2 separate regions of the Homo sapiens genome follow, and region 1 is linked to region 2. Evidence: fine-mapped expression QTL. A gene starts in region 2. The other region holds a variant in brackets. All regions are shown on one strand. Distances are between the middles of the regions.

The links. PIP is the estimated chance that this variant, and not a neighbour inherited with it, causes the effect.
Region 1: its variant is fine-mapped to the expression of ACAN in spleen (GTEx, PIP above 0.99).

What each region holds. Positions count from the first base shown.
Region 1 is chr15:88,822,274-88,831,021 of GRCh38, reverse strand. All of the region lies in intron 1 of ACAN (aggrecan), which reads right to left. Among named protein-coding and RNA genes, the nearest start is that of ACAN, 23 kb to the right of the region's middle. The variant TG/G (reference allele first, on the strand shown) is at 5,244.
Region 2 is chr15:88,799,129-88,807,876 of GRCh38, reverse strand. ACAN (aggrecan) reads right to left here and starts at 4,441. Exons shown (of 19, transcript NM_001369268.1): 1 at 4,068-4,441. It overlaps LOC105370960 (a long non-coding RNA gene), which reads left to right and starts at 4,359. Exons shown (of 3, transcript XR_001751648.1): 1 at 4,359-4,427.

The sequences.
Region 1 (8,748 bases), 23 kb before region 2:
TACCAGCATACTACTGGACGTAACTACAGCCATGGGCCACATAACATTTCAGTCAACAACAAACTGTACCTACGATGATGGTCCTGTAAGATTCTAATGGGGCTGACAAACGCCGATCACCTGGTGATCACCTGGTGATGCTGCAGCCGTTGTAGCGTCATAGTGCAATTACTTTATTTATTTTTACAAATTTAGTGTAGCCTAAGTGTACAGTGTCTATAAAGCCTACACCAGTGTACAATAATGCACTAGGCCTTCGCATTCACTCACCACTCAGTCACTCACCCATCCAGAGCAACTTCCAGTCCTGCAAGCTCTGTTCATGGTAAATGCCCTATAGGTGTACCATTGTTTATCTTTTATACAGGATTTTTACTGTATCTTTTATAGGTTTAGATAGGTTTAGATACACAGAGGGAAGTATTTGTGTATACACAAAGGCAAGTATTTGTGTATCTAAACCTATCTACACATACAAAAGGTACAGTAAAAATACAGTATTCAGTACAGTAACATGCTGTATGGGTGTGTCACCTAGGAGCACTAGGTTATACCATATGGCCTAGGAGTGTAGTAGGCTGTACCATCCAGGTTTGTGTAAGTACACTTTAGTGGAGGGGTCTCCACTGCACATGTTGCTGGATGACAAAATTGCCTAAGAATGCATTTCTCAGAACGCATCCCTGTTAAATGTTGCATGACTATAATAGTAAATAAAGAAACGGGCTGGGGAAGGATAATGAGCACTTTTCTTTCCTTTGAATGAAGCCTCATTCTCCATTCATTGTGCTGTCCTCCATGTGTCCCTGGGGACATTGAGGCTGGCCCTAAAACCAAGGCCAGTTTGCCAGCCCTAGGGTATGGTCAGGAAATGTTCATCTCCATGTCACCTCCCCTGGCCCAGCGTGAGTCCACATCAGTGTAGACTCAGCAAATGTTTGCTGGCTACGTGAACGCCCACCCTCCTCTCCCAGATCCTGCAGGCCTCCTCCCTGAAACCTCACCAGGCCTTGGCCCTGGGTTGTATTCCCCCCAGCTATGACTTTCTACACACTGTTTAGCACCCAATTTTTCTTCTGTTGTTTTATGTGTGCTAACTCTGTCTCATCACGCAGACTGTGACCTCCTAGAGTTTGAAAATCAAGTCTTAAATGAAAACAAAATCCCTTTATGCTAACTCACACAGTACCAGGAATAACACAAAATGGTATTTGACACCTCCTTGTTAGATGAGTAAGTAGACGTTGGGGTTTGGTAGACTGGTAGACCAGTAAGATTTGCCTGCGACCAGGTGGCTCTGTGTCCCTGACTTAAGTCCTAGAAGATGGATTCGAAAGGACCAAGGTGCCCCATTCCTGTAGTCACCAGTCACCAGCACATCACTTATTTGCAGCCTAATCTCCCAATAGCACCTTTTCTCTTGTCACTCGCTCATGAACAAGATCATCCTGATAGCTGTGCATAAACGCAGTAGCATATGCACTCGAGGCTGGGATTTCAAACCCAGCATAGGGAAAAGGCCAGGGACCCTACACCAAGAGCATATCTGGCCAGAGTCACCCCAACTGCAGCTGTTAACTTCCCACATATTCTAAACAGACGTGGTGGGATGGTATAGAAACGGGAAGCCAGGAAGCTGATTTCAGTCCCAGCTCTGTCCTAACTCACCAGGAAACTCATGTAAGGCCTCAGTTTACAGTTTTCCCTTCTGTAAATTGGGATCATCATGCAAGCATCACCCCCAGGGAAATTGTGAAGGTAATTTTTGTAGCTGCCAATACTCTTTTGATATTTCCTCCTCTTTCTCTTCTCCCCACCTTCTTCAACACCTTGTCTTTTTCCGTATCTTTGATTTCCTTTTTCCAAATTTGTTACTTGCTCTGTCATCACTGAAGCATCTTAAATCAAATTCCATGTGTTTTTCTCCATTCCGGGCAAGTGTGTAGGTCCTGTGAAACAGACAGTTGGCAGCAGGGTGGGGAGTGCTGGAGATAAACCCTTCAAGGCCATACTTTTGTCTAGGATTGGCCTTGAGCAGCTCTGTGCTAAGACAGAGGGGCCCAGTGAAGGGAAAGAAAGGTTTTTCCTTGGAGTTGCTTCTAGCCTAGTGAGTGCAGACAAACCTGTATCCAGAGATAGCAGACATGAGTGAGTCGGCTCTGGGTCCTAACCTTGGCCCTGACTAAAATGGCTGCCTGACCCGGAGCCTCGGATTTTCCATCTCTGAAATGGGGGCAGGTGGGAGAATTAACTCTGGAGTTCCCTGAGATTCCAAATGCCAGCTCCACGCAGTGCAGAGAAGAGTTCCACCTTTTTAACTTCTGGGAACAGAAGGAACTGCATCTCCACCCTCTCAGCCTCCCTCATGGCCAGGGACCTGCTCATTGCTTGCTGTTCTGCTGCAACATCCAGGGCAATGCACAAGGGTTTCGCTTGCCTATTGAGCACATTCTCTGGGAAGGTCCAGCCTATTCAGAAAGATGCCCCCATGCCCTCACTGTGCTAGGGACGAAAAGGCAGAAAGGAGAGTTGTGAGGTTGGGAGGGTGGTGCACACATCTAACAGAAGTGAGGGGAGGCTCTCTGGGGAGCAAAAAAAAAGGCTCGGGTAGTGGAGCTGCGAGAAAAGAAAATAAGAAACCGAGAAATGACACCACGGAGAGTGTCATACCTGCAGGTTATACTTGTTACCTGACTGCCGATGTGGCATGGGTCTTATCCCCTGGCAGTGCCCTATTTGAATCTGGGGCTAGGGTCTGGCCCTGTCCTTTCACTCCCTTCTTTTGCTCACACAGTTCCATTCCTTCAAAAAACACCCTCTCTTTAGCTCTATGTCTGACCTATTCCCACCTTCCTTGAGGCCCCATGCAAATGCCACCGCCTGGAAACCTCCCCCAGCCTGAAACGCTCTCCTGTCTGCCTGTGTCCTTTGTCATTTCTTGTTGTTATGACCAACTTATTAGCAGACTCATCTTGGCTTGTGGCTTCTTTCCCACTTTTGTTTCAAACTACTAGGCCAACCACTTAAGGGATGTGTGCATGGGTGGGTGCGATGGCCAGGGTGGGAGCAGGCCCTGGTGCAACAGAAAGAGCATGATTGGGAGTCAGACAGATGTGGCTGAATCGCAGCTCTGACACTTTCCTGTGAGCATATGACCTTGGCTCAATTATTTAACCTCTCGAGGCTCAATTTCCTTACCTCTAAAGTGCTGATTAGATAGGATCTATCAAATAGCATAGGACGCTGTAGGACTTAAATGAGAGATGCTGAGTTGGCCTCCTTTCTCAAGGTTTGTCTGGCTGGTTCCTCCCTCACTGAGGAGCAAGAACACCTGCATTGTGTATGCCCCTCACTGCATTTCAACTAATATGGATACACCAAGCACCTACTATGGGCACTGAGGTCAGTTTCTGCACAAAGTAGCCACCCAACTAATGGGTGCTAGCCTGATAAAAAGTGCCACTCACATGCAATTTGCATCTATATCGAATTTAAATGATGGTCCAAGTGAATGGGGCACTGAGGTCAGTTTCTGCACAAAGTAGCCACCCAACTAATGGGTGCTAGCCTGATAAGAAACACCACCCACATACAATTTGCATCTGTATCTAATTTAAATGATGCTGTAAGTGAATGGTCATTTGTTCTGCAGTGACAGCAAACAATGGGGCCCCCCACCCCACCAACTATTTTAGCCTAGGGATCATTCCTCTATTCACCCCAGGACTAGGATGTGAGTTCAAATAAAACTGTGGACTGTAAAGGAAGAGCCTAATCTGCCACTGCCGTCTCCACGGCTTGCCACAGAGCTCTTGGAGCTTCTCTGTGGTCAGGGAGGGCAGTCACCCCCTCTCTATCTTCAGGCAACAGTGGGCATTTTATAGCCAGAATCCACTTATGCCATGGCTTCAGGAACAATCTAGGGGCCATCTTTAGGAAGGGCCTGCTGTATGTCAGGAACTCCTCTCTGAGCTGTACATGTGCCGTTTCTTATCCTTAGAACAGTCTTCATAGGAAGGAAGACAATGGCTCAGAGAGGTTAGACAACGTGCCCAAAGTCACACAGATAGTGAGTGGCTGAGTTTGGTTTGGAATCCAGGTCCTGTGGCTACAATGCTATGGTTTTCTCAGCATTTACAGTCCCTTTACGCTCATTAGCTTTACTCATTAATTCCATTATTCAGTCAACAAACACATTTCAAGGGGGAGACAACATACTAGGTAACAAATATAAATCAAGGGGGATATGGGGAATGTTCTCATGGAATTTCAGATCCGGAAAGTTTTAGGGGTTGGTAGATGGGAAAATGCATCACTAATTAGTTCACGAGAGAGGGAAACCCAAATCTCTTCCAGTTCTGCCCAGGAATATGGGCAGAGTGCCTGGAATATGCGCACGGTTGGTGGGATCTTGCCAATGAGTAACACAGGGTCCATTTTGGAGGAGGGGGTTCCCAAGTGGGACTCCTGATCCACTCCTGGACCTTCCATCCACAGGGCAGGGCCCTGCTGGGGCTCTGAGTCCTGGCTTTCCCTGTGTCTCCAGGGGTCCCCTGCAAAGCTGGCTCCTACAGCCCAGCATGGTGGCTCTTCCACAGTGTCCTTCAGGCAAATTTCCCAGGGGCTCCAAAAAAAAAAAAAAAAAAAGAAAAAAAAGGCCACTATACAAATGCCCTGCTCCGTGGCAGGGCTGCAGACAGTCCTGTTAACTTCCTCCAGGGGTTTTCAGGATGAGCTTTTTCAAGAGCTCTAATCAAGTCATTTCTGATTAAATGGGCTATGTCTCAGCCAGCACCTACAAAAGCATGATCATCATCTGCTCAAAAATATCTGGATTCCTACTAGTCAACCTGTGGGTAGTCAGTAGAGCCCCCCGACGTGAGCTGAGTCTCTAACCTTTTCTAAAGTCCCATCCTACCATGAGAGACCGCGTACCTCTGGCAGTTGGAAGAGCTGACCAACTCCTGCTGCTTCCTGTGTTGCTGATCACAGAGGGACAGGGAGAGGGGTGTTTTGAAGCCTCTTCGAAACTTCAGCTTCAGAAATCAGCCCACGGAGCTGTTTCTGCCACTGCCAGTCCGAGGCCAACCTCACTGTCCTGACCAGGAGCCAGGCGGATGCTAGTCAAACAATAAAAACAGAGCTGGCCTTGGTTTGCCGAAGGCCTGTGTGAGCTTTTAGGTGAAGGTTCTGCCTGCTTCTGGAGGTGGGGGTGGGCACAGTAGGAAGTGGAAGGAGCAGGC[TG/G]GGGTTTAGGACGTGTAGTACAGAAATACTTGAAAAGATGACATCAATCTCTCCCCTCTCTGGCCTCTCTGTCGTGATTCCCTTCACTCACTGATCTATGTCCCTGCTAGTAATACCTCTTTGACTTGGACCTGTTGGGACAAGAGATACGCTGTTCTTCATCCTCTCTCTGAGGTCCACTTTGGACCCAGTCTCTATGCAGTTTCCTGAATAGCCTCTTCTCAAGCCTCTTGGGAGATAACATGGTACACTAGAAGGTGGGTATCTTAAGAACACAACCTGAATTCATACCTTTGACTCATAATGTACTATCTAGGTGAATCTGGGGAAGTTTCTTGGCACCTTTGGCCAGAATTTTCATAGGTGAGGCCTCTGGAAATTACTTATTTCCAGTTAGGAGAAGAGATACAGAGTGATGATTCCTTGTGGCAACTTACTTGGAACTTCCTCTTATTCCTTCCAAGTCACCCACCAGAAGTCCTCGTGTTCCCTGGGTAGTCTGATCCTGCTGGAGGGGGTGGGAGCAAAAGGGAGCTTGGCCTATGGACTTCATGGCAGAAAAGGATGAATGTTCTTGGAGAAAAATCCAGCTCCTTCCCAGGGCCTGTGAGGCCCCATGTGATCCGCTCCTGCTCCTGCTCAGATCACTATTCCCCAAACCCTCAACCCCGCCACATTCTAGCTGTGCCTTGACCACACGAGCTGATTTTGTCCTAAGGGTTTTGTGCTTGCTCTTTCTTCTTCCAGCACACACTTCTGGATCTTTCCCTCGCTGGCCATTGTCATTCTAGCCTGTTTAAATGTCCCTTCCTTGACCACCCTGCTCCCCTATCCCTCCCTCCCTATCATGTTACCCTGTTAAAGTCTATTTATAGCTTTTTTTTTTTTGACAGAGTCTCGCTCTGTCAGCCAGTCTAGAGTGCAGTGGTGCTGAAGGCCTGTCAGATCTTGGCTCACTGCAACCTCCACCTCCCGGGCTCAAGCAATTCTCCTGCGTCAGCCTCCCAAGTAGCTGGGATTACAGGTGTGTGCCACCATGTCTGGCTAATTTTTGTATTTTTAGTAGAGATGGGGTTTCACCATGCTGGCCAGGCTGTTCTTGAACTCCTGACCTCAGGTAATCCGCTTGACTTGGCTTCCCAAAATGCTGGGATTATAGGCATGAGCCACCACACCTGGCCGATAGCATCATTATTATTTGAAATTATTGTCCTTTTTTGTTTGTTCACTGTCTGTTTCAGCTACTTGAATATACACCCCATGAGGGCAGGGAGTTTTTTTGGTTTTTCTCACTGCTGTATTTCCGGTGCCTAGAACAGTGCTTGGCACATAGTAGGTGCTCAACAAGTATTTGTTGAATGAATGAATTCTCTTAATCACTAGGCAATGTCCCTTTGTATTAGGTTTGGAAGTAGAAGGAGTGTTAATCTTTTTGTTGTTGTTGTTGTTTTTTTTTTTGAGACGGAGTCTCGCTCTGTCACCCGGGAGTGCAGTGGCGCAATCTTGGCTTACTGCAAGCTCCGCCTCCTGGGTTCACGCCATTCTCCTGCCTCAGCCTCCTGAGTAGCTGGGACTACAGGTGCCCGCCACCACGCCTGGCTAATTTTTTGTATTTTTAGTAGAGACGGGGTTTCACTGTGTTAGCCAGGATGGTCTTGATCTCCTGATCTCGTGGTCTGCCTGCCTCGGCCTCCCAAAGTGTTGGGATTACAGGCGTGAGCCACTGCGCCCGGCCAGGACTGTTAATCTTAAGACCGATCATAACTGTTGAGTGTCACCTGATCTCACAGTCTTCCTGCCTCAGCCTTAGAACACATAAGAAGCCCCAGGAGGGAGGGTAGCTCTGAGTAGAGCTGTCAGGGGTAGCCGGGAGTGCACACACGGCCCATGGAAATATCCATTCTCACTCCTTTTCTGCTAAAAGAGGTGCAAGAGTGGAGAAGGATGGGCCTGGGCCACCAAGCAGGGAGTAGTAGGTGACCCCAGAGACATCTAGGGACAAAAACAGAACTCAGAGCTGAGCTGTGTGCTGAATGAAGGCTGCATCTCCAAGAGGCTGGGAGTGATGCTGAGTCCAGGTACCGGAAAGGAAGGCCAGTGGTGCTTCCTAAGGATGGGGTGGCTGCAGCCGTGGATGGCCCCAAAGCATGTGCCTGTAGAAGGGTGGGCACGTGAAGGATGAATTTGGCTGAACACCATCAGCCTTTTCCCACGATTCTTACCCCTCCCCACTCTCAATTGCAAATTCCCAGGAAAACCAGTTTAAAGTGGAGAAGCACTGGGCATGATTAATCCTCCTGCTTCACTCATCCAGGGACACTCAGCTTTGCCCTGTTCTGTGAGAAAAAACAAGAAAAAAAAAAACCACCAAAAAACCAAAACTAGTACCAGGGACCAGCCCCTTCCTGTTCTCAGCCTTCTGCTCCAGTCCAAGCACTTGGAAGTTTTCTCTGCATTAATTTCAGACTTTGTGTAAATATCAGACCTGAGTTTTTGGAAAGGAGTATACTTCAGCCCAAAGTTTCCAGCAGGCGCAAGTACCTTTCCTGGGCAGGGATCTTGGGCCAAGAGCTAAATTCCCTTTACTTGGCGCTGACTGCCAACCCTGCAGGACAGAGAGATCTTTCCTCTATGAGAAGGGGCTGGGAGACCCAGTGTGATGCTTCAGTAGCCTCCCTGTGTGGAAATTGAGCCCAGGTTTAATAAGTGACCTCCAGTAAATGTGTCTGGCAGCTGAGGGTCCTGATGGAAATGCCTGCTTGCCAGAAAGGGCCATCAGATGTGTGGAGTTATAGCTGAATTTCTGGACAAAGCAAGGGCCAGGTGCCTGGGATGTGGCTGTAGGGAAACAAGGGGTGACTAGTCCAATCCTTTCAGTTTTGGGGACAGATGCTCGGGTTCTTGGAGTTTAGTCCTTGGATCTAGTCAAAGGTAAGAAAGGAGATGGGTTATCTGTAGTCCAACCTCATTATTTGGACCCTAATTGCAACCCCTGATTCCAGGGTCTGGGAAGGACCTCACCTCATAGAACACATGTAGTTAGCGGCCAGGCGTGGTGGCTCACGCCTGTAATCCCAGCACTTTGGGAGGCTGAGGCGGGCAGATCACCTGAGGTCAGGAGTTCGAGACTAGCCTCAACATGGAGAAACCCCGTCTCTACTAAAAATACAAAAAATTAGCCAGGCATGGTGGCTGAGGCAGGAGAATTGCTTGAACCTGGGAGGCGGAGGTTGCAGTGAGCCAAGATCACGCCATTGCACTCCAGCCTGGGCAACAAGAGCGAAACTCCATCTCAAAAAAAAAAAAAACATGTAGTTAGCTCCTTGGATCATGGTTCTCTTTGAGAGCTGATGGAAGCTATGGACACAGTTCTTAGGAAATAGTGTTCACGCTCCTGGGATTTTCTGTATGATTTCAGGGCATTCACAGAGCAGTCCTTCTGTGCAGCAAAGGATTAACTTTGCCCGAAGAAAGGTTGGGCCCTTGACCCTGGCTGCCAGGAGG
Region 2 (8,748 bases):
TTCTTTAGGATACACTGTAAGGCCATTGAGAGGGAGAGAAGTCACCTCTCACAGGCCTGGCCAGCCCGCAGGGCCCGCCCTGCCAGCATGCACACACACACACACACACACACACACACACACACACACTCCACCACTTATAAGGAGGCTCTGAGTTTTTAAAAGTAAACTCCACCGTTTCCGTTCTTGCCCTGGATTCAACTTTTGAAAAAAGAAACCGTTTTACCGTTTTCTCTACAAATTCCCCCTCTCTGGTCCTCCTCTCGCCTGCACTCCCGCTCCTTCTCCAGCCCTCCCCTTGTTCTGCCGGCCTCCCAGTGGCCCTTCTTCAACTGCGTCCAGGGGCCCAGACTCCCTCGCAGGGATGGCTGTGTCCTGTTGGATCTGGGGGAAGGGGAGCTGCCACTCCCAAAGTAGCTGTCACAGAAACGGGCCCTTCATCCCATTGAAGGGGCTTCCTTTAAGTTATCAGGGCGGCAGTGCGGCTACCATCAGGACACGAAGCATGGCCACGAGGCCAGGCCGTTGACAGCAGGAGAGGAAGGCTCCTGTTCCCAAGATGTGCTCCTGATCCCCTTTCCCAGGGCAGCTGCTGGCCTGTCCCCTCCCCTGCTCTACTTATAAGCAGACCTTCCTCCATGCCCTGCTTCCTCTCTGACTCTGGGTCCTCTTCCTTGAACTTGCCTTTCCCCAACTCCAGCTTCCACCTCAGCTGCCTTGACTCCCCAGCACTTGGTGCAGTGGCAGCAAGGATGCCCCAGCACCTGCCACCTAGGGCCACAATGCTGAAATTTCTGAGACAGAAACATCATTGGGACCAATATAGTAAAAAAAAAATTAAATAAAAATATATGCAAATATCAAATTTGTATATATTTGCATATATACATTTATATTATAAACATACATACCCTTATAGAGGGCTTCAAAATAAATAACAGAAACAAAAGTTTCCAGAAACAGTACTTACCTTTGCTACATAGGAGGCACTATGAGATTATCTGGTATTTCCTATTTTATTAAGAACCCCGCTAAATTGATCTCACAACCTGCAGTTGGACAAATCTGGTGCTAGACATCCCTGCAGCAGCAGAGACAGACTCAAAGTGGGACTCTAGGCAGGGTCTCATGGGCTTCCTTTGGCTCAGCTGAGGTCCTCCTAAGGGCCCAATAAGAAGGGTCTTGGGAGGAACCCAGTTCTAGAAGGAATCATTAAAAAGAAATTCACTGGCTGGGCATGGTGGCTCACGCCTGAATCCTAGCATTTTGGGAGGCTGAGGCAGGCGATCACCTGAGGTCAGAAGTTCGAGACCAGCCTGGCCAACATGGTGAAATCTCGTCTGTACTACAAATACAAAAATTAGCCGGGCGTGGTGGTACACAAGTAACCCCAGCTACTTGGGAGGCTGAGGCACAAGAATCACTTGAACCTGGGAGGCGGAGGTTGCAGTGAGCCAACATTGGGCCACTGCACTCTAGCCTGGATAACAGAGCAAGACTCCCATCTTAAAAAAAAAAAAAAAATTCACACCAAAAGTTAGGACACACAGTCTCTTATCAAGAGAAAACATTTGAAATTTTTGCTATCCATAACTTGGGGTTTGTGACCCACAAGGGGGCTTAGGAGCTGTTAGAGGAGAGGAATTAAAGTTTGTGGTGCTTGCTGAGAGCTGGACAAGGCACCCACTTTATGTCTTTTAATCTTCACAAAAATCTCTTATCGGAGGATTTTCTCCCCTTTTTAGAGAAGAGGAAATGAAGCCTCTGGGAGGCTCAGTACCCTTATCAAAGCCATGTAGCCAGCGAGTGGCTGAGCTGGAATTTGAATCCCAGTCTTCCTTGCATGCAGGCTGTCCACCCTCCTGGCTCTTGCCGACTGTCTCAGGAGGTGAGCTCTCTCTTGGAGCTCCCTCTCTAATTGGGGAGGGGGCATAAGAGGAGGAGAACGCTCTGCCTTGGCATGCAGGGGTGAGTGGCTGCCTGGGATTGGGCGTGTGGGTGTGAGAGAGATGGGGAACAGGGGCAAGAGGTGTGCCTGGGTGTGTGGAGGGCTTCCGAACATTAAACAAAATATTCCCTTTTAAGTATGATTGTCAGTGAATATTCTAGAAAAAGAAAAACATTCATTTACTACTAGAATTAAGAATGATAATAGTAATATTAATAATATGAAACAGTTACTGAGTACTTGCCCAGTGCCAGGCACTACGCTAAGCCCTTTGCTTGGGTCATCTCATATCTGCTGTTTATTGAGTACCCGCTGTGGGCCAGCATTGAGCACAGAGCCTGGCACCTAGGTGGCGCTCAGCAGATATTGGAGAATGAATGAAAATACCAGGCACAGCACTAGAAACTACACGTAAGAATATCTAAATTAAACACAGCTCAAGGTAACCTGTGGAATTCCAGCATCTCTCCAAGAGATATCTTCTTCCTTTGGACAATTCCTTCTTCTGAAACTTTTTATACTGGGGAGATCTACTATTCTGCAATCTTTCTTTCAGGTTAGAACCTCTCCTCCCCACTGCCGCTCAATGCTTCCTCCCCCAACGAGCTTCAGGGTTTTCTTCCCCATTGCCTTTCCATTTCCTGCAGTTTCTCCCTGGAGCCTGTGATTGACAAGCCAACACTCCTAAACCGTATCTTCATAGTGCCTCCAAACCCACCTTGCCCAGGGTGCATGAGCAACCTGATTGCTCCTTGTCCATGGCAACCCAGGACAAGAAAGAGAGATAAGGATTAGAACCCAAGAATTCTGGACTCTTAAATCAGGACGAGGGACCGACTATGGCCTCAGAAAACCTGGATTCTAGTTCTGCCCTTGACCCTAAGTCACAGTTCAACCTTCAGAAATTCATTGCACCTTTCTGGGTCCACTTGCCCTCCTCTTCAGACGAGGTGGGTGAATTTTCAAGGTCCAGAGTCCCCTCTAAACTGTCAGACACCCACCCACTGCAGCACCCAGGACCCCAAAACACCGTGCTAACCCAATTCAGCTTTGTATTTTCCTCCTGGCAGCCAGCCCCACAGAACCAGAATTTACACATCAGTCAACATGCTGGAACTCCAGCTTCTTCATGGTGAAACCCTAGTAGGATCCTGTCAGAACCCAGCTCATGACTGAAAGGAGGATAATGATGGAAAAGTTTGGGTTGGATCCTGTCTCACAACCAGAGACAAGCCCCCACCCCCGCAGCTTGCTCTGCCCAGAGTGTGGTTCAGTTGACATACTGACAGCCTCCAACCCAGCCCCAGGGTTGGAAAGGGCTCCTGCTCCACCAGCATTGGCTTCGTTTGAAGAGGAACCCACAGACGGAAAAACCGCTCGTGGTCGTGTGTCCTCAACTCCCCTCCCCTTTCTTCCTTGAGAAATGCCCCTTCTTGGTTGGACACCCGTGTGTTCAGGGCACTGCTCTCCTCTCCCCTGCTGGCAGTTCAGTAGCTCTGTCCCAGGTTCTGCCACTCTCCCCTGGGCAGACTCTTCAGGCACTCTGGTCCCTGGAGTAAGCCAAGTGGCCAAGGATGGACTATCTAGCCTCGGCTTAGGACCCGCTGTGTCCCTGACATAGTGTCCATATGATTTCATTTATTCTTCCAGACCCCGCGAAGGCCTTTTCCCTCTCAGCTGACAGACGGCAGGCCAAGGCTCAGGAAGGTGAAGCACACCTTCCAGCTCAAAAGTAGCACCTCGGGGATTTGAACCCACATTCCCTTGACTCTGAAGCTGCTACTCTGTCAACCATGGGTCTTTCCAGACCCTAGGATTTAAAATCACCTAGGTGTTTGGAGAAAAGGCTCCCTTGTTCCTTCATCCTGGCGGACTAGGAGACAAGTGCCCCTCCTCACGTGTTCCTTTGCCCCATTCACTGAGTCTGCAACAGCCAAAAAGTTTGCTCAACTCCACCGCGGACGCAGCCGGTGGATGTGCTGCGCCCCCGGCACACATAGCTCTAGGGCGGAGACCAAGGCAGTGCAGCCCCCAGCCCCGGGGCGTGCAGTCTCAGTCCCGTTCCTGGCTCGCCGGGCGCCCTGGGAGAGCCTCGCTCTGGAGGGAAGGAGACAGTTACCTTGAAGAGTTGGACTCCCTTCTCCAAGAACTTCAGTCCCACACACCTGGCGAGGCAGCTGGGGGCTCCTGGGGCCGGGAGGCCCGGGTCTCGCTGCGTAGCGAGGGAGACGCTCTGCGCGGGCGCTGCGCACCCCTCCTCCTGCCGGCGTCCTGTCCGCAGGTCCCCTCGGGCTGTGGCCGCAGCGGCAACTGCTGGGTTGCGGAGTCCTGGCTGGCTGAGGGAATGGACACTGAAAGGTGCCCGGAGACCCTGGCACCCGCGTCAGACGCCGGCCGGCGAGGGTGCTGAGAGAGAGAGACCTTGAGCAGCGCTGCGCGCGTCCTCAGCTCTGCGAGCCCCCTCTGGAGCGGCGGGGAGGTAGGTGGGCGGGCGGGCGGGCATGGCGCGCTGTGACACATACATAGGGACGGGCGGGGGAGGGGAGGGCCCGTGAGGGGTGGGGGCGGGAGGGGGCGAGCGCAAAGGGAAACCCCACCCCCAGGGACCGAGGGGCGGCCGACAGGGGGAGGGGAAGGCAGAGGCGTCTGGAGCGCGCTGGACCCTGGCTCCGGACCGGCGCGCCGATGGGGAAGCCGGCCTGCGCTCAGGGCGGGAGAGGAGCGCTCCCCGGGGCGGCGCGGACCCGGCAGCTCCGGGGCTGGCGGGAGGAAGGCGGCGCGAGAAGGGCTGGAGGGCCCGCATCTGCATTGCGGTCGGCAGCTCCGCAGTCGGAGGGGCCCAGGAGGGCTGCACCCTCAGAGAATCCCCAAGTGCCCGGACTCTGAGGCCGCCGCGGCGGGACAGGGCTCCCGGGCGCCCGGCGGGGTTCTGCAGCTGAGGCTGGCCACGACGCGATCTAAGGAGGGTGCAGCCCGCTACTGTCGGCCACGATTTGGAACGACCCTCACCGAGGAGCTGGCTGAAAGTTTTTTTGGGGGTGGCGTACACCGGGATGGCAGGGGATGGTGGAGAGGGGGAGGTAAGGCGTCAGCGGGGAGGCTCACGGGGAGCTGCGAGTCTCTGGGTCTTCAAATTCCCCGGGAGAGACCAAGGACATCTCATATGAAGCAGGAATTCTCCAGTGTCTCTACAGTACTCTTTAATACCGTTTTCAGGAAAAGGAGAAAAAGAACTAGCAGCTTTTGAATCCCTCCTATGAGCCCGTTGTGTAACATACATTAACATTTCATTTAATTTTTCCAAAGAGCCCAACAAGGTAAATATGGCAACTTCCCACCTGCCCCTAACCAAAGATGTGAAAACTGAGGCTCAGAAAGTGGTGGAGATCCCTCTTGAAGGTGGGACTGAGTTCGAGTCCCAGGTCTTGTGCTCTCTGCTACACAGGCTGCTGGTTGAGCCACAGCACCTTCGGAGGACTCAAGCTGGCTGGTGACCTTCAGAGTTCTTGTGGAGGAAGCTGGTGGTGCTTCACACCAGGATGTGGTGGCCACAGTCAGGATGGTGGTGGAAGCTTCCTGACCCTCTCATTGGGCAAGAAGAGGAAGAAGTGGAATCTTTCGGGACTCCCCACTACAGAGATAATAGACCACACTTTAATCAGTTCCTTGATGAAAAGGAACTGAAGTGCCTCGGTTTCCCCAGGGCGACTCCACTGGAATTATGTGGTTATTTTACTGGCCATCTCTGCCTGGGGGCGGGACTGGCCCTGGCCCAGCACATGCTCTGTGAGCCGCCTGTCTCTCCCCTGTCCAGGGCAGTGAAGCCCCGTCGGAGGGAGCATAGTGCCCACTCTATCCACCCACCTCTCAGAGCAATGGCTAAAGTGTTCCAGTGGTTGGCCATTCTTGATTTCACCCTTTTTCTACCTGAGCGTATTGAGTCAGGTCTGTAAGTCTTGAAGCATTTAGGACACAGACAAAATGCTGGTGACCGAAGCCCCTTAGGGGGTGATAGTGGCTTCTCTCACAGATAAAGAAATGAGATGAGGCCGGGCGCAGTGGCTCACGCCTGTAATCCCAGCACTTTGGGAGGCCGAGGCGGGCGGATCACGAGGTCAGGAGATGGAGACCATCCTGGCTAACACGGTGAAACCCCATCTCTACTAAAAATACAAAAAAATTAGCCGGGCGTGGCGGCGGGCGCCTGTAGTCCCAGCTACTCAGGAGGCTGAGGCAGGAGAATGGCGTGAACCCGGGAGGCGGAGCTTGCAGTGAGCTGAGACGGCGCCACTGCACTCCAGGCTGGGCGACAGAGCAAGACTCCGTCTCAAAAAAAAAAAAAGAGATGAAATCTTAATAGTTACTGGCCTCAATGCCTGGAACAGGGAGAAATGACCCTCTGGGAAAAAAACAGTCCCTGAAATTCCAACGAGGTCATGGATTCTCATGCCTGTGTTTACCTGATGCCTTGTGGGAGAACAAATTGCTCTCATTTGTAAAATGGGTTCATGTCAACATTCATCCTAGGGCAGGTGGGGTTAATGAAGAACAAGTCAAGGGCAAATATTAATTAGGCGATTTATCTTTGTATTGAAGGGAACAAATGTTTATTGATCATCTGGTTTTGTAATGAGTCTAAGAAACATATATTGGGCACCTATTATGTGTCAGATGCTGCTTGGTACAGCAGCCTCTCAGATGGATGCCATTCCCATTTACACACTAAGAAACCAAGACTCAGAGGCCATCAAGGTAGTGAATGGGATTGGAGTACAGGCTGGTATGAATTCACACTCCCTAGCCCTAAAGGATACAAAAAACCCAGGATAATGGCAACGCATTTGGACACTTTAAAGACAGTATTCAGAGAGTCAAAGGACATGCGTGTCAGAAGGCCCTTGGTGGCATACACAGGCTCTTCCTGTCCAACTCAGGAGCTCTGTTCCAGTGTAATATTTCTGAAGCTGGTCATCTCCTCTTCTGCTAGAATACTTTACAGTTGCCTAATGCCTTTTCCAGGCTGCCCGATGCAGTCTGCTGTAAACTGGCAATTTCTAACCTCTTGCTGCTCAGAGTATGTTCTATAGACTGGCAGTGTCACCTGGAAGCTTATTCAAAATGCAGAATGCCAGGTTCCCCAGACCTACTGACTCACAATCTGCATTTTAACAAGATCCCTCCCGTGTTGTATATGCCTGCTGAAGTTTGAGAAGCACTGTGCTGACATCATTCAGCAGGTTCTACTCATTCAATCACAAATCACAGAATAAGAGAATCTCAGAGCTGGGAAGAGCTCTTGGAGAACTTTAAGGACACCCCTCCATAGAGTATGTCAGTCCTGTCCATGATGTTTCCCTCAAGTAGGACATCAGACTCTGCTTGGATGTGGCCATGAGTTTGACTCCCTTCTGAGGCCACATCCATTTTTTTCACGTGGTTCTTGTATTTAGGCAGCTTTCAGCTTTCACAGAAGCTCATGCCCAATACTGTGGATTCAGCAGTGAACAAGACAGGCCCATTTCCATCCCCCCAACCCTAACCTGTCCCAGGACCTCCTGCCACGTGATAAACCTTTCTGTTTGGAATCAGTGATCTCAAGTCTCTCCCTTCTCCCTTTTGGATTGGGTCCAGAGGAGAGCTCACCTCAATAACCTGGGTCCTGTGCTTCTGGTAATGCAGCCAACATTTATGTGCTTTTATGACAGCCTCATCATGACTCATTTGGAGCCTGCAGCCAGCTCAGACTTCCTTTTCACAGTGCTTCTGCCACCTAGCATCTCCTTTGGCTTATCCTGGTACAATGGGTTTTTCCAATCCAAGTGTGGGGCTTCATTTTTGCTTCTTTTAAACATTACACTAACTAATTCAGTTTACTACTTCAGATCATCTTGGATTCTGACTCTATTATTCTGTGTGTTTGCCATTCCTCTTAGCAGCAGACATTCTACAAAGCTAACTAGTGTGCCACTTCTATGTTTTCATTCAGGCTGCTCATAAAAATATTGCCTGGGACGGAGATTAGGGCTGAGTTCTAGAGCAGAGCACTAGAGACAGCCCCCCTGGAATGAACGACATAATCCGATATTCCAGTTATAATGGCTGTGTAACAAATCACCTCAAAACTGAGTGTCTTAAAACAATAGTTATTTAATATCTCTCATGGTTTCTATGGATCGGGAATTTGGGAGAAACTTCGCCAGGCAGTTCTGGCCTGGACTAGCTCTTGAAGTTGTAGTCAGATGTCAGTTACAGCTGCAGTTAGCTGAAAGCTTGACTGGGGCTTGAGGATCCATGTCCAAGGTGGGTCGCTCACGTGATTGGTGAATTGGTGCTGGCTGCTGGCCAGTGACCTCATTTCATCTCCATAGGGCCTCCCGATGGAGCTGCTTGAGTGTCCTCATGACATGGCAGCTGGCTTCCACCACAGTGAGTGACACAGGGAGTGCAGTGCTTCTGTGTCATAGCTTTGGAAGTCCCACACAGGGCCAGCCCTGAACTAGTGTGGGAGGGTCATACAGGATGTGAATACCAGGGGATGGGGATCACTGGGGGCATCTTGGAGGCTGGCTTCTACACTCCATTAAACTAACTCATAGAGCATGGCCAGTCCCCCCATCCATCTGACTGTATTACCATGGAGTGCTTATTTCTGTCCCATACATGGGGACACCATGAAGGTACCTTGCTAAGTCCCAATATAAGGTGCTTGCAGAATTCCTCTGAAGCATTCATTCCAAACTCTTTTACAAGTGAGTGGCCCAATTCTGCTCTCTAGAGCAACACAGTCTGCCCCCATTTCA